Regions from separate parts of the Homo sapiens genome. Here region 1 is linked to region 2. The links come from fine-mapping of genetic effects on gene expression. A gene starts in region 2. The other region holds a variant in brackets. All regions are shown on one strand. Distances are between the middles of the regions. Region 1 has its middle 43 kb from the start of TSPYL1. Region 2 holds the start of TSPYL1 (TSPY like 1).

Evidence for each region.
Region 1: its variant is fine-mapped to the expression of TSPYL1 in whole blood (TOPMed, PIP above 0.99).

The regions. Positions count from the first base shown.
Region 1 is chr6:116,317,930-116,327,201 of GRCh38, reverse strand. It overlaps a transcript of DSE not described here. Among named protein-coding and RNA genes, the nearest start is that of TSPYL1, 43 kb to the right of the region's middle. RefSeq lists enhancers at 1,339-1,840, 2,863-3,430. The variant A/C (reference allele first, on the strand shown) is at 4,264.
Region 2 is chr6:116,275,344-116,284,615 of GRCh38, reverse strand. TSPYL1 (TSPY like 1) reads left to right here and starts at 4,686. Exons shown (of 1, transcript NM_003309.4): 1 at 4,686-9,272. The coding sequence starts at 4,786. The coding sequence ends at 6,099. It also overlaps a transcript of DSE not described here. RefSeq lists enhancers at 4,693-4,752, 4,983-5,252, 5,273-5,322.

The sequences.
Region 1 (9,272 bases), 43 kb before region 2:
CAGAGTTTGTTCTGGAGCAGAATGGAGCTCTATAAGCTGGAGATTCCAATCCTCGACTTTTTCCTGTTTTTTCTCTCTTTACTGTATGCACTGTTAAGTATCTTTGGACCCCTTAATTTCCCTCTAGGAGAAAGCCATCCATTTCCGCTCGAGTTAGAAGGCTTCTACAGAAGGCCTGAATATTTGAAGATCATACAAATGACCCCAACAACAGCCTAATGGGTGAAGGTTAATAAATGTGAAGCAACATGAAAATCTAACTGCCTGCCTAATCATTTTGAAGAGTCTACTTACAGTTATATTTTTAACTTAGGCATTCCCTCTTTATAGATTGTTCTACTAGAATGAAGTAAGAAAAATATTTTACATTCTCATCTCTCTAGTAATTTTTCTGCTTCATTTTGCCCTTACATACTATTTCACCTATTTAGAGATTTTGATACATTTTGCTGTTCTTTCCATTAAGTCTTCACCTAAATTCATGCTTTGTACCTCAGCAGTTAAGTTTCAGGGAGTGCCTAATATCCTTACATTTGACAGATGAAGAGAGAACCTAACAGTTTTCTCGGCCAAGCAAGAGAGACACAGTGTAGGACTGTAGTGAGTCAGGATTTGGCTGCCTCAGTATCCATTCAGAAGACGCCGGTGGTGCCGCAGCATGGGATAAATGCACAAAACAGTGAAAAGAGACAAATGGTCCAACAGCATTATGTTGGCATCATTTAAATCTTATCAGCAAGATACCCTAAGGAGGTGAACTGGCACAAATATCACAGTAACTGCCAAAAAATTTCATCACTCTTGGCATAAGCAGCTCCTAAGATATTTGAAAGTTTTTTGGTGGGGGGTGGGGGAGTTAAAGAAAAAGCTGAAAAGAACCCTTGCCTCAGATTTTCCTTTCGTCTCTAGAGGCTATGACTCCTTAGGACTCCCGCCGTCCTCCCCTCTGAGCTCCTCTAGGATGAGGCCTGTCTTCTGGTTACTATAATTAAGGGAGGAGACCACCCCTCATATTGTCTTATGCCCAATTTCTGCCTCCAAAGAAAGAAAAAGATAAAACTAAAAGGCAGAAATGAAATCCACAAGCAGACAGCCCGGCGCCACACCCTGGGCCTGGTAGTTAAAGATCGACCCCTGACCTAATCGGTTATGTTATCTATAGATTACAGACATTGTATAGAAAAGCACTGTGAAAATCCCTGTCCTGTTTTGTTCCAATCTAATTACTGGTGCGTGCAGCCCCAGTCACATACCCCCTGCTTGCTCACTCGATCACGATCCTCTCATGTGCATCCCCTTAGAGTTGTGAGCCCTTAAAAGGGAGGAGAATTGCTCACTCAGGGAGCTCGGCTCTTGAGACAGGAGTCTTGCCGATGCCCCCGGCTGAACAAACCCCTTCCTTCTTTAACTTGGTGTCTGAGGAGTTTTGTCTGTGGCTCGTCCTGCTACATAGTGATAGGCCAGGAAAATATCTGAATGCTTGCTATAAGTCAGATAGCAAACTATACATGGGTTATGTATTTGAGAAGGTAGAAGTGGTCCTTACATGGAGGGCAGAAGACAATTCCACAGCATGCATTAGTATGGCAAACAGACGTTGTATAAACATCTTAACTTGGCAGGAGAACACCTACCTACTACTCCAGTTGCAACACAGGACATTAGGTTTTATTAAAAAAATGATGAAAGTTGCAAGAAATCTGGGGATGAAGGCAAGATAGAAGATAAAAACAAATCATTTTGTACAATTCCTCTAATCCAAAAGGGAAGGAGCTCATATGTTTCTGATGATACCTACCTCAAGAACTAAAGAGCTGATGGAACTTTGGAGATTATGTATCATGCAGTACTCATCCTGGAGTGCACATCACAACTTGTGGTGGACATTTTTCAAAAATCATGCATGGTTTCACCCCAGACATGGGGAAGAAACATCTGAAAGTGAGGTCTTGGGACTTAGAAAATTTAGGCAACCATGAGTCTCACTCGCCAGGGTTTTTCTTTTGCAGAAAATCCACCTTTTCCCAGTGACTTGTGGGTTTGGAGGCTTTGGTGTCTGAAGGACTCCTATGATGCCACCAGACATGATTCGGGGTTAGCAGCCACCTGGTTCCAGCCTTTCCAAGGAGGATTGTTTCCACCCTGGGTGAACCAGTTAAACTCTGCTGCTTCCCAAAACACACCTAACCCCAGAGTGGGTGGTATGTGTCCCTAGCTAATCTCCAACTGTTATGCAAAGGAGTCATTAGCACTCCTTATCAGTGCCTCATAGTACAAATATAAAATGGGATAAACTCAGAGAAAACTTAAAAGCACAGACATAGGAGAGTGCACACAGGCAGAAATGGACTGCATGCATCCCCAAAAGGGTGAAACTCTCCCCCTATAATATTCTACTCATTATAAGGAACAGAGAAGTGCAGTGAACATCAATGCAATGGAAAGAAGTAGTTGAAATGGAAGCCTGTTCTTTCCTTAAGCTAACTCAGGCTCCTCGAGCTACCAATGAGAGGGGATAATGAACTTCCGGGTCACCTGGGTTGTTCTACCATTGCTGTTTAACAAAGCCAGCTCTCTTTGTATTTTACATATACCCCTGCACACAACCCTCAGAATCTCATGTAGGTTCCAAAGCTACGTACGCTGCAACTATCCTATTCTAAAGCAATTGTGCTTTCCCTGTCCTTTGTGTTGATGAAGATCTAAAACTCATGGAGTCAATTCAAACAGCTACAAGGGGGTGGAGTTGGGATTTCACCTGTGACTATTTGACTTCCAAACTCATATTCTTGTCAATAATCTAAACTGCTGCCTTCCAGCAGGTTACTTGTCCTAAGCTATTAAAGCAAACTGGGAAAAATAGTCAAAATACCTTTGCTTTCCTGGATCTTGCCTGCTGTTGTATATATCTTGGAGTTAGGCCAAAAACTGAGGAAAATCTGCCCACCTGCCAATGGCAAGCTGATGAAGTAAGATATAAGTGAAGTCTAATAAAATGATGGTGAAATTAGCAGGAAAGCCTACTAGCAGACATAGCTTTGGGACTTGTGTTTCCCACATGTTAATACGAAGAAAGCCCCTTTGGAGCCTGGGGTGAGGGGTAAGAGGGGGACCTATTAACTGCTGAATTCAGATCTCACAGGTGGGCACTTCCTTTTCTCTTTTGTCCTCTTACCTTGCCTCTGAGGGTTGTTAATGAGTTGTGGTTTGACTATGTGGGGCAGGTTTGACTAGGGGGCCCAGAAAAAAAGAGAAGAGTTGGATAAATCAGCCATTAAAAATATATCCTGGCTGAAGAAGGATGGTAGAAGTGGAGGGAAGATAATGGAAGAGGGAATGAGAAGAAAGGTATCAGGAAAGATGCACATGATCAGGCTAATGACCTGTTTTCCCCTTATAGAAACCATATACAAAATTAACTATAACTTATTGCCAACTTAATTTTTTCTCTTGGTGTATATTTTATACCTGAAATGCTATTAAACATATTTCTTACTTTTCTGTTAGATTTAAATTTTCAAAACTTTCTTCAGAATATTTAAAAATCTTTGTGTTGTTCATTACAAATCAAATGACATGAAATTCCATTACCCTTAGAACTAAAATGAGTAAAATAGATCATAATAATATAAAGGTTTTTCCTGGACACACTTTTCGATAAGAACATTTAAAAGCACATTTGTAGACAAAGCACACTATAGCACCTGGCTGCTAAACGAATGTCCAAGAAGTAATTATTATCTGCCTTGCTGCCACTGAAAAGTTTTTTATTTTTCTGGCAAGTCAAATGTGAATCTCACTACTCAATAAAAAAATAGAAATCCAAATTAATTATTAGCTTAACAGTAGAAGAATCTAATAAGATTGAGTACAGTCGTGAAGAAACACAGTGAAAGATGTTCAGCTCTTATATTTCTCAGTATAGGATTTCTTACAAGGTAAATGACATGACATTGCTACAACTGAAAAAAATACATATTTTAAAGAAATCTGTTTAAAAGCTGGCTTACAACTGATGTGTAATTTTCACTTTACAAGGGAACTGGGAGAGAAATGTTTCCACTGACATCTTAAAGAATAACATTAACAAAACCAGACTTCAATTGTTGCAAATCTGGGATTCCATAATCACAGACCAGTAAAGCGCAAAATACTGTGAACCACTATCAGCTCTCTTTTCTGGAAGACCCTTATGCTCCCTGCATGGATAAATTATTTTCTGCAGGTGGTTAGGGGAGGACTTCCCACAGCCAGGAAGCAAAA[A/C]AATGCTCTCTACACTAACACTCCAACTTGCTCTACATGGAGTGCAGTGTCAAATCTGGGAAGTTACTCTTCTGAAACATTATTCTGCAGTCTCTTCTACCCTGCCACTTCTCTCTCTTCTCTCCATATTTAAACAGAAAATCTTGGTTGAGAGTCATTTACACATGCACATGGGCTGATTACATTTCAACAAATTGAAATCTCAGCTTCAATCACAGGTTTGCATTTAAATCTTATCACTGGTTGAGGAATGAAATACTTTTTCTTTATTTACTTTAAGCATCAACGAAATGATATATTTTAGGAAGAAGGCAATCAGAAACCTAAAAAATCACTCCAGGTTTATTCAACAGGTCCCAAAGGTAAATCTTATTTAATTGGGGTGGGGGGGCAGAAGTAATTTTGGGGATGGTGGGGAAGGAAAGGTTTGTCTAAAGACTCAGTGGCAGAGGCTCTGCTCCCTCTGGGAGGCTGGCTGAGGCCTACAGACCTTTGGGAACATCCAGGTCTTCATCTCTTTTATTTAACATCATATTCCACTTATTCTATTAAGGGAGGAGACCACCCCTCATATTGTCTTATGCCCAATTTCTGCCTCCAAAGAAAGAAAAAGTAAAAACTAAAAGGCAGAAATGAAATCCACAAGCAGACAGCCCGGCGCCACACCCTGGGCCTGGTAGTTAAAGATCGACCCCGACCTAATCGGTTATGTTATCTATAGATTACAGACATTGTATAGAAATGCACTGTGAAAATCCCTATCCTGTTTTGTTCTGATCTAATTACCAGTACATGTAGCTCCCAGTCACGTACCCCCTGCTTGCTCAATCAATCACGTCCCTCTCACACGCACCCCCTTAGAGTTGTGAGCCTTTAAAAGGGACAGGAATTGCTCACTTGGGGAGCTCGGCTCTTGAGACAGGAGTCTTGCTGATGCCCCCGGCCGAACAAACCCCTTCCTTCTTTAACTCGGTGTCTGAGGAGTTTTGTCTGTGGCTCGTCCTGCTACACTATCATGTGAAAAAATTGCGGCATGTTGATTGTCAGGTACTAGACGTACAGTAGTGAACAAAAAAGACAAAGTTCCTGCCCTTATGACACAGTATAGGGGAGAAGGCAGACACTACTTAAAGAACTGTAAATATTTGTTTGTTTATTTATTTTGAGATGGAGTCTCACACTGTCCACCCGGGCTGGAGTGCGGTGGCGCGATCTCGGCTCACTGCAACTTCCACCTCCCGGGTTCAATCGATTCTCCTGCCTCAGCCTCCCGAGTAGCTGGAATTACAGGCGCCGGCTAATTTTTTCTATTTTTAGTAGAGACGGGGTTTCACTATGTTTGCTGGGCTGGTCTCCAATGCCTGAACTCGTGATCCACCTGCTCGGCCTCCCAAAGTGCTGGGATTACAGGCATGAGCCACTGTGCCTGGCCAGGAACTGTAAATATAAGAAGAGTTTTTGTGGGCTGGGTGCAGTAGCTCATGCTTGTCAAATCTCGGTGCTTTGGGAGGCTGAGGCAAGAGGACTGCATGAGGCCAGGAGTTTTAGAACAGCCTGGCCAAGATAGCAAGACCCCCATCCCTACCAAAAAAAAAAAAAAATGAAAAATTAGCTACACATGGTGGCACACACCTTTAGTCCCAGCTACTCAAGAGGAGGATCACTTGAGCACAGGTGTTCAAGACTGCAGTGAGCTATGCTTACACAACTGCACTCCAGCCTGGGCAACAGGGTGAGACCTTGTCTCTAAAATAAATAAATAAACAAATAAGTAAATAAATAAGTAGGTTTTTTTAAATGAGTATTTGAAAGTGTGACCTGGGAAGCAATACCAGGAAGATGGAGCAGAGACAGAAGAGTTGCAGAACTGCTTTTCTAAGGAAGTCATGTTTCAGTGACCCATTCAACAATCTCACATAGCACAAGCAAGCCTGCTGACATGTGCAGCATGTCAGCTCTATCTCAATCTCTCCATCGCCTTAGTACACTCCTTCTTTGCCTTCTGTTAGGAGCTCAGTTGTGTATTCCTTAAAATACATATATTGAAATGCTAAGCCCTAGTACCTTAGAATGTTTAAGTGTAGTTGGATATAGGGCCTCTAAAGAGGTAATTAAGTTAAAATTAGGTCGTTAGGGTAGACCCTAATCCAATATCACTGGTGTCCTTATAAGAACAGAAAATTGGAACACAGGAAAGAGACATCAGGGATGTGCATGCACAGAGAAAAGGCCATGTGAAGAGGCAGCAATAGAGTGGCCACCTCAAGCAAAGGAGAGGAAACCAATGCTGCTGGTACCTTGATCTTGACTTCCAGCCTCCAGATGTGAGAAAATAAATTTTTGTTGTTTAATTCACTGAGTCTATGGTATTTTGTTATGGCAGCGCAAGCAAACTAATACACCTCCTTCCCTAAAGGAGGACTCCTTCACCTGCCCCAACCTGCACTGTTCTCTCCTTTGTTTTGTTCTCTCCAAAGCATAGTTTATATTTTCTGACTTATCTAGTATCTAATAAGTTCTTTATCTAGAAATACATCCTAGACTCTTGAAGGAGGATAAAAAAAAATTGACATATTCTTGCCAGAAAATCTCATTTTTACCAAAGGAGAAAACAAGATTCAGAAAGTCCCACAAGTAGAACTAAGCAGGAACACATTCTGATGTTGAGAGTAACCTTTGCAATAAAATATATACCTAGGAGGCATCTGGCTACGCATCCTCTTATATAAGCAATCCTGGTATTGGTCCCTTTCCTAACAGCTCTGCTGGTAAAGCTGTCTATTCTTTCTGTGAAATCTGGTAATGTAATCTTTGGGCACTAATCTAAAACCCATATTTGGCCAACAAACATTTCAGTGTTTGATTATGTGCTGGGTATTGTGCTGTGGTTGGTGAGTTAAACAGACACAGCTTATATCCTGAGAAAATGCATCAGGTGCTATGAGAACACATAAAAGGGGATCTTTTCCTAGAAAGTCAGGGACAGTTACCAAGAGTTAGTCCTGTTTAAACTGAGTTGTGAAGGTGGGGGTAGGATTCAGCTTATAGAATAGTGGGTAGACTGAACAGAAGTGCAAAGATGTGTAAACAGGAGGGAGAAGAACATATTTATGAAAACAACATGTTGGATGAGTTGACCAACATGACTGCAGTGAAGAAAGCGAAAAGGGAAGAATCAAAAGATGAAGTTTTGAAGGTGAGTGTCAGATCAACAGAGCCTCAAGGGCCATGTCAAAGATACATATTTACCCCAAAGGCCATAATAAGGCACTACAGTGTAGGATTTTAAGTAAGACCAGGATATGACCAGATTCTCATTTCACATTGTATTAGTTTTATGACATCCATTAGGGTTTTTCAACAAATACGTTCACTTCAGACCTCTTCTAAGTTGTACTTCCCTGCCTCTTCTTTCCATGTGAGATGTGACCATGTGATTTGCTTTGGTCAATGGAATGTAAGCAGAGGCTTCAAGGGCCAGTGTTAGATTCACCATATTTCCTCATTCCCTATAGCACAATAATTGGTAAACTTGAATAGCTTGGCTATATACACTTGTTAGCATGTGTCCCTGAATAACTACAAAAACAGAGTTCCCGTGCTTACAGTAAATATGTATAATTAGCTAAAAATAAGCTTTGGTTGTCTTATATCACTGAGCATTAAAGGTTGGTTTGTTACTACAGCATAACCTATCTACTCTGACTAATACAAGGGTGTATGTTAACTAATCTGTGAGAAATCCTCTAAGTAATTAGCCATGTTTATTCATCTATTCCCTATAATATTTATTTTTCAATGAACATCTTGAAAATAAATGGATAGTACTATGTCAAAGTGCTTAGAAAAAGTAAAGAAAGAATAAAGAATCTTAGAACTGAAGAGAGTTTAGAGATGACCTAGCCTATTCCCCTCAATTTCTAGAAGAGACTACTGAAGCATTTTTTTCAATGGTTTCATCCTAAACAGAAAAAGAGCGTTTTGGGCATTCTGTCCTCTATTTTAGTCATCTTTAAATCATATGTAAACATGTTAATACATATTTACTAGGTACACAGTTTTCTTAGACATTTCTGCTATGTGCTTTGTAGGATACGTTAGCATTATTATTGTTATTAATAAGCAAGTAGAAAAGAAGCTGATTTAATTCACTTTACTCTTTGGGTATTTCCTTCCAAAAAATATTTTTAAATTTCTCATTTTCTATTTACTTTTAACCCTTCATTTCTAAATTAGCCAGGTAATTTGATGCTGAAATTTAATTTCCTTCATTTTTAAAAAGACACGTATAGCTGAGAAACACAAACTGGAGCTTTGATATCAGTCAGATAGTTGTAAAGTTGCTAGTTTTGCCACTTACTAGTTGAGAGCCATGGGGCAAGTTAGTTTTAGTTTTGCTTTTTCAGTCTTCTTCTCTTTCTTTTTTTTTTTTCTTTTGAGATGGAATCTCACTCTGTTGCCCAGCCTGGAGCGCAGTGGTGCATCTCGGCTCACTGCAAGCTTGGCCCGGGTTCATGCCATTCTCCTGCCTCAGCCTCCCAAGTAGCTGGGACTACAGGCACCCACCACTATGCCTGGTTAATTTTTTGTATTTTTAGTAGAGACGGGGTTTCACTGTGTTAGCCAGGATGGTCTCGATCTCTTGACCTTGTGATCTGCCTGCCTTGGCCTCCCAAAGTGTTGGGATTACAGGGGTGAGCCACCACGACTGGCCCCTACTTTTCAAATGTGCATAATGACACCTAGCCCATTGGCTTGTTGTGAAGCATAATAATTATAATGCTACAAGAAATGAAATCATGAATGTCGAATGCCTCAGCATGTCATACAGCAAGTGCTCAATATATATTTGTCCACTCCTTGTTCGATCATAGAAAAACACTGAATAAAACTTGCTTTGATTAGGATAAAATGCTATTTTTATACTATTTGAGGTTTAAAAAACCCTCAAGTAGTTGTTCTGATTGTGTATAATTTCCAAGGAAATAATAAAGAACCAAACTGACCAA
Region 2 (9,272 bases):
GTTAATGGGTGCAGCACACCAACATGGCACAAGTATACATATGTAACAAACCTGCACATTGTGCACATGTACCCTAGAACTTAAAGTATAATAATAATAATAAAAAAAAGAAAGTGAGTTCACACTTGTTCAGAGAGTACAGGCTTTTGAGACAAACTTTCTGGGTTCGAATCATGGGTCTATTACTTTCTGTACCATTTTGGCCAAGTGACAGTCTCTCTTTGCCTCAGTTTCCTATTGAGTAACACGAAGGTCATAAATGCAATTACCTCATGGGGTTCTTATGACAACTAAAAGATGTGACACACTGGATGTTGTTTATAAAAGTGGCTGGTACATCAGGAGCAGTAAATAAGTGAAAGCTATCATTAATTATAATGATAAAACCTACCTTTCTGCAAAACAAAAATGTCTGAACTTCCGCTAAACTCCTTGCTACCTGAGAAATCATTCCCAAAGAATCTATGATTCCTTGATATTATGGAGAAAAACCTCAGGGTTTTTTGCAGATGTTTTCCCATAGAACTGTATTAGAAAAGATTCAACTATCTTTGGGGGTAGTGAAGTTTATTGTCAATTACAGAAATGCTCTGTCATGGACCAATTTATCCTATATTTTAAAGTGCAAAAAAGGTGATATATGAAGCATAGCCAAAATGTATTTCCTCTGCAAATAAAATATGCCAGTACAGATACACTGTTGTTTTTGTAAGATAATTTGAGGTTTATTTTATTCAAATGAACAAATATTGTTAAGAATCTACCCAAATCTAGCCGGGCGCAGTGGCTCATGCCTGTAATCCCAGCACTTTGGGAGGCTGAGGCGGGCGGATCACCTGAGGTCGGGAATTCGAGACCAGCCTGACCAACGTGGGGAAACCCCTTCTCTACTAAAAATACAAAAATTAGCCGTGTGTGGTGGCCAGTGTCTGTAGTCCCAGCTACACGGGAGGCTGAGGCAGGAGAATTGCTTGAACCTGGGAGGCAGAGGTTGCAGTGAGCCAAGATCATGCCACTGCACTCCAGCCTGGGCGACAGAGTGAGACTCCATAACAACAACAACAACAACAACAACAACAACAACAACAAAGAATCTACCCAAACCTGAGCCCCATGCTATGATGAATAAATGCAAAAGAAGCTGCAACTATGCTCCCATCCCATGAGATGATGCTGGAATGCTGGGATGATGAGACTGACACATATAAATCAACTAGTCCCTAAGAGGAGAAGCACAATTAAGTGCTAAACTGCATGGTGCAGCTCATAAAAGAGTTGCAGGAATTCAGGTGAGGAAGATTAAGGAGCCATAGGCTACTTAGGAAAGATGCACTCAGGAGAAGGGAGAAAGAATTTACCAGTTACTTTATGTATGACTTTGGTAAAGTTAGTTAGCCTCTCAGTGTTACTGTTTCCTCTTTTATGAAATTTGACACTTTAATGCATGTAAAATGCCTAGCACATTTTAAAGCAAGACAGGTTTTTGGTAAGTCTTAGAGAATGTGTAACATCTACCCAGAAAGAGAATTCCCAGATAGCAGGATAACCTGTGTCATGTAAAAGAAACAGGTATCCTTTTTAAGCCTTTTTAGATACAAAAAGGTGAACAAAAAATCCACAAGTAATAGTCCTACTATAATAAGTACAATATTCTGTGTTGAATAGCAACCACAGCTTTGCCTGTATGGCAAAATAACTCCCTGAGCACGTGAGCCTTGGTGCATGTTGACATTCCTAGAGAGTTCCTCCTTCCAAGCAAAGATTCTTTCTTTAAAAAAAAATAGGACATAAAGTATGCATATTTGCTTTTCCCTCTAAAATCCTTGCCCTTTACTGACCCTTCTCCTGAGCACTTGTCCGAAAGCAATCATAACCTGAGCTTTCCATCACCTACAAGGAATAGTTATAATCACAATCACTTCTCTAATGTAATTTTCTTCTAATACACAGAGAACATGAGATACATTACTTCTAATTTTAAATCACGTTCTCTATATATTCAAATATTCCTTATCACAGCTTTATACATGTTCGACAAGAAGAGAAGGAAGAGTTCCTTTAAAGAGTCTCAACGTTATTTGGGGGAAATTACATTCAGCAGAGTCCTGATTATACTTACATGATCCTAATTAGAGTTTTCCTAGCATTACTGGTAAGAGTGTTAATTACATTAATTACATAATGGCTTCTTTGACAAATAAAGCCATATATTCTAAGATTGGTCCAAGCCTGACACTCCTTTCTGCTTAAAAAAAAATAGGAGACATATTGGAATAATAGAAGTTTCCACTTTAGGCCGAATGAAATTATACCAGTTCAAAATAGAAGATGATTTCATGGCAATTAGAAACAGTCTTTGTGGAAAGTTCCAATATTCCTTTTTATTTACACCAAAAGTAATTCCAGCCATGCATCACAGGCTCCATCACTTGTAGAGAGAAATGCATTATATATTTCTGTAGACAGAAACGAAGTAAAGCCTGAAATGATTACCTTGACTTTTTCAGAAAGGAGAGAATTGGAAATACAGTGCTGGTAGTCCGAGGCTTTGATATGTAAACTCACCTAAATATGCTGGTCTTTTCAGAGTTCGTTTGTCATACAGTGTGACCACACAAACTTAAATTATTTGTAAAATAAAATTGTTTTCTCTGTGTTTTTCCTATCCTTTTAGAGCCTTTGAAACATATATAGAAATTCATTCTCCTGAGTAGGAAACTGTTACTATATAGAATAGAGCAGCCCTCTGGTTTGCCAGTGGCAGATAGGAAGGAGAGCAGAGTGACAACCCATATGCCCCTTACTTCTCTTCCGCAAGGAGCAAGTTGCAAGCAAGAGAAACTGTTTTCTGCTCATTTGCTCCTTTATTTAACATTTTAATAATCTATGGGATACTGTGTAAGGTAGTGTGCTAGGCACTCGATAAACAGAGGGAAACGAAACCATGATCATGTCCTCTTGCAGTTTACAGTCTCCTCAGATATCGTTTGTGGTATGTTTAGGCTTTAATTTTGTCTTTCTGTGCATTTGCCTAAGTATATTTCTGGTCTTGATATTGAAAGACAGATTCAAGCTGTAATACATCACAGCTGTTGGGCAGGAACTCACGGGAAGCCATGAGCAAGGTAGAAGGGGCTGCTATTAGAAACAACTTGAGGCACCCATAGATGCAACCAAACCTTAATCCAAGGTGTATTCATTTCATATTGCTTCTGTAACAAATTACCACAAATTTAATAGCTTAAAATGCACAAATTTATTTTCTTATAGTGCTGGAGTTTAGAGGTAATAACCTCAAGGTGTTGTCATTCCTTTGGAGGCTCTAGGATTGAATCTATTTCCTTACCTTTCAAGCTTCTAGAGGCTGCCTTTATTCCTACGATCCTGGCTCCTTCCTCCATCTTCAAAGCCAGCAACATAGCGATTTCCCTTTCCTCCCTCCCACACCTATTCTCCACCATTCCTTCCCTCTCTCTGTGCTTTCGTCCTCTTATCTTCTCTGACTGACCCTCCTGCCTCCTTCTTATAAGAAATTTGTAATTCCATAGGGCCCACCTGTATAATCCAGAATCATCTTCTCATCTCCAAATCTTTAACTTAATCATATCTGCGAAGTCCCTTTGGCCGCATAACTAAGACAGGTACATCTTTGAGGGCCATCAGGCTACTACCACACAAAGCAAATTAAGTAGAAAATAACGTTTGCCTCTTTTATACCTTGAGTCCACCAGCTGCATGTTGCCCTTTGCAAGTTTGTTTTCTACTTCAAGGCCATCTTAGTTGTCCATTTTAACTAGCCTTTCCTCACAAAATGGTGGTATGTGGCTCCCCCCACTGATATTTCTCTGAGGCCTTGTAGCTCTCTAAGACAGCACCAGTTTAACTCACAAGTCAACAAACTGGAACACTTCAACCAGAGACATTGACATCCCCCTCTAATGAACTCAGCTGATTGCTAAAGACAGATGCTTCGTTAGAGCCAAACATTCCTATCTTACATAACTAAATATGATAATAAATTAAGTTCTTGGGGCTGGAAATAGTTATAATTTCCTCTTTCTTGCAGTGAAAAGGCATGGAACATTTAGCAAACTGATCCTGGCTTAATTTCTACCGATACTATGCAGCACAAACTCTTATTTGATGCAGATTATAAATCGAAAATTAGCAATGAATACTATGCATCGCTTTAGTGGTAAGAGGCTGCTGAGTAGCTTTTTTTCCCCAGTAACCGTAGAGGCAAGAATTGATATTTTTATGTCACTTTTACTAAGAAGGGGGGAAACATTTTGCTATTAATCTTAAAGAGAAGTCTTTTGCTGCTAGTTACGTGGAGTAACAGGGAATAGATTTACCTTCCTGCCTCAAAAAAGTGAAGACCAGAAAAACATTTGTTTTCAGACACTGGAGAGCAGGCACTGTTACGGCTGTGATTTTACAACTGCTCCTACATGCTGGGAGCAGTCGCTAGATGCATCTCAAGGTGGGTCGTCCGCGCTTCCAGACTCAGCACAATCGACATTTATTTACGTAGGTAAAATTACTGTTGCTATGGGTAAATTCACAGAAATAAAGCCCAGAGAATCCGGTTGGCTGGCAGGGAGCGGCGGAACCAATCCCGGGCTCAGCAAGTTCTCGCGATACCGTGAGATCTCCAGTCCTGACGACACCGCCGCTGAAATGTTAGTGAGACTGTAGGGTGGGCGGTGCGAGCGGCGGTTAGCTCCCAGTTCGGCCTCTGAGGAAAACGGGCGTTCGCCTGCGGTTGGTCCGACTGTTAGCAACATGAGCGGCCTGGATGGGGTCAAGAGGACCACTCCCCTCCAAACCCACAGCATCATTATTTCTGACCAAGTCCCGAGCGACCAGGACGCACACCAGTACCTGAGGCTCCGCGACCAAAGCGAGGCGACACAGGTGATGGCGGAGCCGGGTGAGGGAGGCTCGGAGACCGTCGCGCTCCCGCCTCCACCGCCTTCAGAGGAGGGGGGCGTACCCCAGGATGCCGCGGGCCGTGGCGGTACTCCCCAGATCCGAGTTGTTGGGGGTCGCGGTCATGTGGCGATCAAAGCCGGGCAGGAAGAGGGCCAGCCTCCCGCCGAAGGCCTGGCAGCCGCTTCTGTGGTGATGGCAGCCGACCGCAGCCTGAAAAAGGGCGTTCAGGGTGGAGAGAAGGCCCTAGAAATCTGTGGCGCCCAGAGATCCGCGTCTGAGCTGACGGCGGGGGCGGAGGCTGAGGCGGAGGAGGTGAAGACAGGAAAGTGCGCCACCGTCTCAGCAGCCGTGGCTGAGAGGGAGAGCGCTGAGGTGGTGAAGGAAGGCCTGGCGGAGAAGGAGGTAATGGAGGAGCAGATGGAGGTAGAGGAGCAGCCGCCAGAAGGTGAAGAAATAGAAGTGGCGGAGGAGGATAGATTGGAGGAGGAGGCGAGGGAGGAAGAAGGGCCCTGGCCTTTGCATGAGGCTCTCCGCATGGACCCTCTGGAGGCCATCCAGCTGGAACTGGACACTGTGAATGCTCAGGCCGACAGGGCCTTCCAACAGCTGGAGCACAAGTTTGGGCGGATGCGTCGACACTACCTGGAGCGGAGGAACTACATCATTCAGAATATCCCGGGCTTCTGGATGACTGCTTTTCGAAACCACCCCCAGTTGTCCGCCATGATTAGGGGCCAAGATGCAGAGATGTTAAGGTACATAACCAATTTAGAGGTGAAGGAACTCAGACACCCTAGAACCGGTTGCAAGTTCAAGTTCTTCTTTAGAAGAAACCCCTACTTCAGAAACAAGCTGATTGTCAAGGAATATGAGGTAAGATCCTCCGGCCGAGTGGTGTCTCTTTCTACTCCAATTATATGGCGCAGGGGGCATGAACCCCAGTCCTTCATTCGCAGAAACCAAGACCTCATCTGCAGCTTCTTCACTTGGTTTTCAGACCACAGCCTTCCAGAGTCCGACAAAATTGCTGAGATTATTAAAGAGGATCTGTGGCCAAATCCACTGCAATACTACCTGTTGCGTGAAGGAGTCCGTAGAGCCCGACGTCGCCCGCTAAGGGAGCCTGTAGAGATCCCCAGGCCCTTTGGGTTCCAGTCTGGTTAACATTTGCCCTTGGGAATACTCCTGCACAAGGTCTCCTACCACCTTCTGCTGGACCTGTGCTTGGGCATCAGCAATGAGTATGCCTTCTATTGTGCTTTGTTTTTGCTGACTTTTCTGCACCCTGTTTCCTTTGGATATTCAGTTCTCTCAACCTCAAGATTGAGACGGTGGTGGGTATGCTTCTCCACTTCCATATGACCTTCATGCTGTTCTGGAATATCACATGCTACGAGGTCATCCTTCACACTACTTGTAAGCCAAGCAAATGATACTGTAGATTGTACTGCCTTTATCTGCACTGCTTGGACCCTGTTTATTCCCAGGGCCTCTGAACTGGTTGCTGTCACTTGGATTTCTAGCTTTGGGAGCCTGTTCCACCTACTCAGCTCTGCATTGAGCAGTATGGGCACATGCCCTGTGGACAGTTACTGGACGTTAATGAACTCAGAGGAGAAAAGCAGTGAGCCACTTGTTCTGTGTGATTTATGGTACTTCATTGCTCTTCCTTCACCTCTAGTCACTTTCTATTGCTACCTGCCCTACATTGGCTCCTGCCAAGGTCCCTCTCTCTCCCTGTTTTCCTTTTTTTTTTTTTTTTTTTTTTTTTTGAGACGGAGGACGGAGTCTTGCTCTGTCGCCCAGGTTGGAGTGCAGTGGCGCGATCTCGGCTCACTGCAACCTCCACCTCCCGGGTTCAAGCGATTCTCCTGCCTCAGCCTCCCGAGTAGCTGGGACTACAGGCGCGCGCCGCCACGCCCGGCTAATTTTTATATTTTTAGTAGAGACGGGGTTTCACCATGCTGGCCAGGCTGGTCTCGAACCCCGATCTCGTGATCCGCCCTCCTTAGCCTCCCAATCCTCTCTTAAAAAAGTGATAGCTCAGAAACATTTGTAAAAGCAAGGTTTTTATTTCATTTTGGCTCTGTCATTTTCAGAGGCAAAGAAGTTGGCCTGTAAAATAGAGTGCTAGAGCTCTTACGCCCCTCCCCTTCTTCCCAACTTCCTACTTCCTAGCCCTTTTATCAACTCCTAGAATAGTTAAAGAGAGACACATCTAGATGGGATGAAAGGTGCCCTAAGCAGGAGAAACTGAACAAAAGGCTAGAGGCATGGGCCAGGTAAAAATTGGGCCTAGAGTGAAGACTGTGCTGTCGTTAAGAGCTTTCGAGGAAGGAGTACTTACTCCCCAATGATGATGAATGGAAAAATACTTTTCAGGGAGAATTGAAGGGGTTAAAGTGTTAAATATGTTGCCTAGACAAGGGTTCTTTAAAGAAAGACAGCGCAACTTTGAATGCTTTCTTACTTGTTTTGTGACCTAATTTATGTGGAAGATTGTTATTTCATTAGGATTTAGTAAAATTTTTTTTTCTGATTCTAAACTTATTGTGAAAATTGAGCTGTACAGATATTCTTTTGATTTCAATTGGGAACATTTGGAAGAACAACAGTCTTACTTGCCTGTACAATATAGAGACATATGAATAGTCATAACAGTTTTCAACTTGTTCTTGTTTCTGTTAAACTATATTCCTAGAAACATAGTTTGAACAACTTGGTCTTTGTTAGGCTTGTCAAATTGCCTTCATGGAAAAATAATCTACAAAAGTATGGTTTAATTGATTGTCTTACATGATAATTTTCCCTGGTAACAACTTAGTAAGTGATATATCTTTTTTCCTAAATTGCTTAAATACTGTGAAATTGCTCTGACAAATTGGAAGTGTACCATTGGCATATTTGTCTTCCTTTTTATGCATGATGGTAAAATAAAAGCATGTTGTTCTGCTAGATTTCTTATTTTTCACCTTACCCATAAATGTAATGCTTGAATGAAGTTGTTCATATTAATTAAAAATTATGGAATCATTAAAGTCCTTTAATCCATTAAAGTTCTTAATGGATTAAAATCATTAAAGTTCTTAATGGATTAAAATCATTAAAGTCCTTAAATTGATGTTAACTAAAAATTACAGAATCATTAAAGTCCTTAAATGGACACAATAGACATTATCCCAAAGAGAAGAAAGCAGGGCACGGTATGTTTGGTACCTTCCAAGGTAGTTTGCCTTAAAACGTTAGCAGTTGCAACTGCTTACTCAATCACTTTTTTCCATGTAGTTTATGCAGCACAACCTCCCCTTCAGTTGCTCAAATCCTCCATTTCTGTCTCCATAAATTATATTCTCAGGTTATTCAGGCTCTTCTTTTTATTAACTTGTATGCAGGGAGTACCTATCATATGTGATGTACTCCTCTATTTTCATACTTTCTCATCTGTAAAAACTTCCTTTTTTTCTTTAAACTTCCTCACTGTTCTCTTCTGTCAAATCCTTCAAGGCCTGCCCTTGGTAATTCCTCTGCCAAAGTCTTTCTGTTCCCCATAGAGGAGATAAATGTTTCTTTATGCACTTAGTGTACTTTGGAGGGACCTCTGTTCTAGAAAATTAACATAATTATTCATTACAGTGAATTCCACAAATAGAGAAAAAGAGTAAGAAGATAAAGTCCATTCCCTTCTTTGGGGAACTGGGGAAGGACTGATAAGCAAACAAAGAATTAACAGAGTGATACAGTAAAATAAAATACAGAGATTATATTTTCATGTTTTTCCCATGTTCACTCTTTTCCTCTCAGTAGTTTGGAAACTTTGTGAAAGTGGAGATGCAGTGCATTTTACATGGTTCATTGCATCTAGCATTTTTTTTTTTTTTTTTTGAGATAGAGTCCCACTCTTGCCCAGGCTGGAGCGCAAGTGGCGCGATCTCGGCTCACTGCAACTTCCGCCTCCCGGTTTCAAGCAGTTCTCCAGCATCAGCCTCCCGAGTAGCTGGGACTACAGGCACGTGCTACCACGCCCGGCTAATTTTTTGTATTTTTAGTAGAGATGGGGTTTCACCATGTTAGCCAGGATGGTCTCCATCTCCTGACCTCGTGATCAGCCCACCTCAGCCTCCCAAAGTGCTGGGATTACAGGCGTGAGCCACCGCACCCAGCCCATCTAGCATAATGTTTTGCATAGTTGTCAGCAGATAAATATTGAATGACAAAACTCAGATGGAGGAAAAAGAACAAAATAACCTAGTTCTCAGAAAGATTTAATGAGCAAATGGGAAAATGTCAAAAAGATTTGCAATGCCATTCCTAAATAACTATTTCCCCTTTTAGTCATT